Linked DNA regions of Homo sapiens: region 1 is linked to region 2. The links come from fine-mapping of genetic effects on gene expression. Tissue or cell type: whole blood. Region 2 holds a variant in brackets; the other region holds the start of a gene. All regions are shown on one strand. Distances are from middle to middle.

Region 1 (2,684 bases), 70 kb before region 2:
GTCTCTTAAAATGCTCTCACAGAAACGGTAATAAGATACTCTTAACTTCCTTAAGTCAAATCCACATTCGGCCGCGCTGCCACCTGCAGAATTAGCTGAAGGGGAAACAATAAAGGTCCTGCCGGACAGCCATGAGCAGCCCTGGTGCTGCTCCCCGGATGCCCCCGAGCCGAGAAGCGAAGGCCACGCTGGGAATGTCGTCCTCGGAGGCAGAGTACGGGGAAGGGATGGTTCTGAGCAGGTGGGCATCATGGAGGCTCCAGATTCTCGTGTAGCAGTCCTGGCCCACTGCCACCACGATTCCCTCTTCCTCGTGCACATGCAGGGGCAGATAGGCGGACTCATTCACGTGACCTTCGTACTGCCTTACACATTTAGTGGCCCTCAGATCCCACAGCTTGATCTTTCCAGTCATGTCTGATGCCATCAGGCATTGCTCTTCTTGGAGGATTTGCACAGAGGTCACTGCTGAGTCATGGAACAGGCGAGTGGCCCTCCACCCCTTGCCTCGATTTCTACAACGCAGATCAATGGCAAAGATCTCCCCGGAGCGACAGCCATTAAACAGCAAAGGAGCCGTACTAGCAAACTGCTGGGCCAAGACATCACTGCTGGTATCAAATGACTGCTGGTGTCCCGTCGCCACGCTGGTCAACAGGACCTGCTGAGACAAGCCTGCACTAAAGCAGTGATATGCCCGGGTGTTGAGGGACCACGCACAGGACCAGGCCTCTGGGATCTGGAAACTGCAGAGCATGCCAGGCTGGTTAACTCTTGTGTGAACACTTAAGAACCGCGACGCTGGGAGCAGCACTGCACAGCTTGGAGCATCTGTGATTCCCTCGAAGCACAGCAGAACGTGAGAGTCCAACTGGTTCAGCGAGGCCCAGCACAGGGACTTCACCTTCCGGTTGGGGACGTAGAGGTTTCTGAGCACGTACACGTGGAACGAAGGGATCTTCAGAGTTCGCAGGCTGATGATGCCGTACTTGGAGCCTTCGACTTCGACCTGGTTCACTACGAAGAGCTGGTCGCTGTTGGTACTCGCCAGAATGAAGTTAAATCGGTCGCTCGCCAAAGAGGAGGGATCCAAGCTCCGAATTTGGACCTTTTTCCGCTCCATGCAGCTCACACGCAGCTCGTTGGCTAAACGGGAGTAACTGGTGACGTTGAGGAAACCTAGCTGGCTTTTTCGGAGCATGGAAGATGCATTAAATCCCATTCTGGCTACCTTTTTCAGCTTGGCCTCTTCCTCGAGGAGTCGCAGCCTTTCAGCCTCCATTTCCTCCTGCGGAATGTTCCTCGTGACAGGAAATTCTGCAGGATGTTCTTCTCCGTGACAGGATGTTCTTTTCCGTGACAGGAAGTTCCGTCCGGGTGCAAGCGGAAGTGTTGCTACTTTTTATCCTCTCTATTCTAGGAGGAAGTCCATTGTTACAGATGTGTATTACAAATCTCTTTTCCTACTCTGTGGGTTGTCGTATTCTCTCAGTGGTGTCTTGATGAAAGGAAGTTCTTGATGTTAAATTTTTTCCTTTCTCTTTTTGAGACAGGGTCTTGCTCTTTCACCCAGGCTGGAGTCCAGTGGCACGACCACGGCTCACTGCAGCCTGGAACTCCTGGGCTCAAGTGATTCTCCTACCTCTGCCCTACTTAGCTGGGACTATGGGCTCACAACACCATGCCAGGCTACTTTTTTTGTAAAGATGGGGTCTCCCTGCTTTGCCGATGCTAGTCTGGAACTCTTGAGCTCAAGCAGCCTGTCCGCCTCAGCCTCCCAAAGTGCTGGGATTACAAGCATGAGCCCACGCGCCCTGCCTGTATTTCTTATTTTTTTATTTTTTATTTTAAGACGGAGTCTCGCTCTGTCGGCCAGGCTGGAGTACAGTGGCGCGATCTCGGTTCACTGCAAGCTCTGCCTCCCACGTTCACGCCATTCTCCTGCCTCAGCCTCCCAAGTGGCTGGGACTACAGGCGCCCGCCACCACGCCTGGCTAATTTTTTTTGTATTTTTAGTAGAGACAGGGTTTCACCGTGTTAGCCAGATGGTCTCGATCTGCTGACCTCATGATCGGCCCGCCTCAGCCTCCTAAAGTTCCGGGATTACAAGCGTGAGCCACTGCGCCCGGCCGCCTGTATTTTTAAAATACAGTTAGAGACCAGCCTGGGCGGCATGGTGAAACTTTGTCTCTAAAAAAATACAAAGATTAGGCCGGGCGCAGTGGCTCACGCCTGTAATCCCAGCACTTTGGGAGGCGCAGGCAGGCGGATCACGAGGTCAAGAGATTGAGACCATCCCGGCTAACACGGTGAAACCCCGTCTCTACCAACAATTAAAAAAATTAGCCGGGCATCGTGGCGGGCGCCTGTAGACCCAGCTACTCTGGAGGCTGAGGCAAGAGAATGGCGTGAACCCGGGAGGCGGAGCTTGCAGTGAGCCGAGATCGCGCCACTGCATTCTAGCCTGGGCAACAGAGCAAGACTCTGTCTCAAAAAATAAATAAATAAATAAAATACAAAAATTAGCGGGGTATGGTGCACACCTGTAGACCCAGCTACTCAGGAGACTGGGAGGGAAAATCACTTGAGCCTAGGAGTCTTGGAGGGAAAATCACCTGAGCCCTGAAAGTTGAGGCTGCAGTGATCACCCCACTGCACTCCAGCCCAGCTGGGAGACAGAATAA
Region 2 (2,684 bases):
CTCAGTCATAACTTTGCAAAGGCCGTTTCAGATAGACCCTCAAAACTAGAAGTCAAAATCCTTTCTTGTAAAATGCAGCTTTAATACATTTCAGGAAAAGCAAGGTGATTTCAGATATAATTATTCTGCTATTGAATATTTAGCTATATCTTCTTTTATCTCATGAAGAAATATATCCAGGCAAATTAAAACTTTTTTCCAACTTTTATTCAGATTTTGATTTGGTGAGCAGGAGCCAGCTAGGCCAAGAGCATATGAACTTGACATGGATTTCTGATGAATAATGTTTCTGCCAAATCTATCTCCTAATTACCCATCTACAGAACTAGGGTGGGCAGAATGGCCTCTTGACAGACCACATTATTTTATTTGTGTTTATGAATGTCGTATGTTAGCACCAGTATTAGGCCGTTCTTGCATTGCTAGAAAGAAATACCTGAGACTGGGTAACTTATAAGAAAAGAGGTTTAATTGGCTCACAGTTCTGCAGGCTGTACAGGAAACAGTGCTGGCATCTGCTTCTGGGGAGGCCTCAGGAAGCTCTTACTCATGGCAGAAGGTGAAGTCGGAGCCGGCACTTCACATGGTGAGAGCAGGAACAAGATGGGGGTGGTGCCACACACATAAACAATCAGATCTCGTGAGAACTCACTCACTATCAGGAGGATAGCACCATGAGGGATTGACCCTCCTGACCCACCAGGCCCTACCTCCAACCAGGCCCAACTTCCAGCACTGGGGATTACAATTCAACTTGGGACTTGGTGGGGACATATATTCAAACCATATCTGCACCAATTCCTTTAATGTATATGTTTATAGTTTGGTTTTCACTTTTGGATGAAAGGAAAGAAATATCTATGTTTTCTCTTAACATTCTAAATAGAAGTGTCCTTCCTTGTAGATAATGACAAAATTGTTCTATTGTCATGAATCAGACAAAGCATTACACGACAAAGTTTCCAATGTCAGCAAGGTGAGGAAATTTTCATTAACTGTGGAAAAAAAAAAAAAGAAAATAATCTGAGGCACTGGTTTTCTAATTTTTAAGTGTTCAATGTTAAGCGAACCTACGCAGTAGGTCAATTTGTTTACATAACCCAGAGGAGTGCTTTGTGGTTAATTCATGTGGTAGGTCCCTAATTATATTGAAGATTATATCCCTAACACCCACCGCAGAGCTGGGCAGGTCATATGCATCCATGAATATTTGCTGAATTGAATTAAAGATGGCCATGTAGAAGCCTGTAGTGTATGGGGCTGTGTCAGAGGGAGAGTAGATGCTGGAGAAGATAGGGGAGTAAAAATTGGGCAAGGAGTGCTCAGCTCAGAATGGCAAGAGTCCTGGAGACATCCGCGCAAAATGCTGAGATGAGTTTAAAGGTCTCTCAGCAATTCTATACTTCAAAATACATACTATGAGCCAGGCGCAGTGGCTCACACCTGTAATCCCAGCACTTTGGGAGGCCGAGGCAGG[T/C]GGGTCACTTGAGGTCAGAAGTTCGAGACCAGCCTGTTCAACATGGTGAAACCCCATTTCTACCAAAAAATACAAAAATTAGTCAGGCATGGTGGCACACGCCTGTAATCCCAGCTACTTGGGAGGCTGGGGCAGGAGAATCGCTTGAACCTGGGAGGCAGAGGTTGCAGTGAGCTGCGATCACACCACGTACAACAGCCTGGGTGAAAGGATGAGAATTCGTCTCAAAAAAAAAAAAAAAGAAAGAAAATAAAATATACTATGTAGTAATAAGAAAGCCATTCCTAGTCAATAGAGTGGGCTTAAAAATCTTTAGTATTAAAACATTGTGTGTTTTATTTTGCAGATACAAAGGAAGTTTTTCTCGGCCTGGTCTTGACTTAACAGTGACTTTAGTACTATCCTGTTCAGACACCTCAAGTCTTCAGAAGAAAGCAGATGATGTGAAAGTATATCTAGGTCCCCAAGAGAGATGCAAATTACCAGCTGTATTCCCTCATGTCAGGAAAAAGAGGGTCCCATATATTTCTTGTCTAATACAAAATCGCAGAAGGCTGAAACACATTAACTAGAAAAGAGAATGCAATTTGGATTCAACTACCTGCTGTCATGAAAGGTAACAGTAGTTAATAATGTTTGCAATTCATGGGATGTTAGAGATAAAAGAGTCCTCAAATATCCTCCAGCAAAATCTCTCTCCTTTTACAAATGGACAAACTAAGGACAAGAGAAGAAAGATGAGTCAAGCCTTCAGTCTTATGCTGTGATCTGATGGTGAGCTATAAAATCACTGTCAAGAGAGCCCTTCCAACCACCTGTGCTCCTGGAATTCATGAGGGAAACACATTCCTAAAACAAAACTAGCAACATCAAGATATTACCAAATGCTAGGCCGGGCGCTGTGGCTCATGCCTGTAATCCCAGCAGTTTGGGAGGCCGAGGCGTGTGGATCATGAGGTCAGGAGATCGAGACCATGGCGAAACCCCGTCTCTACTGAAAATACAAAAATTAGCTGGGTGTGGTGGCGGGTGCCCATAGTCCCAGCTACTCGGGAGGCTGAGGCAGGAGAATGCCGTGAACCCGGGAGGCGGAGCTTGCAGTGAGCCGAGATCGCACCACTGCACTCCAGCCTGGGTGACAGAGCAAGACTCTGTCTCAAAAAAAAAAAAAAAAAAAAAAGAAATTACCAAATGCTCTTTTTCCACT

The links. PIP is the estimated chance that this variant, and not a neighbour inherited with it, causes the effect.
Region 1: it holds the start of DCAF4L1, and the variant in region 2 is fine-mapped to the expression of DCAF4L1 in whole blood (INTERVAL, PIP above 0.99).

What each region holds. Positions count from the first base shown.
Region 1 is chr4:41,980,391-41,983,074 of GRCh38, reverse strand. It overlaps DCAF4L1 (DDB1 and CUL4 associated factor 4 like 1), which reads right to left and starts at 1,319. Exons shown (of 1, transcript NM_001029955.4): 1 at 1-1,319. The coding sequence starts at 1,282. The coding sequence ends at 92. RefSeq lists enhancers at 57-829, 389-1,588.
Region 2 is chr4:41,910,638-41,913,321 of GRCh38, reverse strand. It overlaps LOC105374426 (a long non-coding RNA gene), which reads left to right. Exons shown (of 3, transcript NR_188374.1): 3 at 1,824-2,684. Among named protein-coding and RNA genes, the nearest start is that of TMEM33, 23 kb to the left of the region's middle. RefSeq lists an enhancer at 1-437. The variant T/C (reference allele first, on the strand shown) is at 1,478.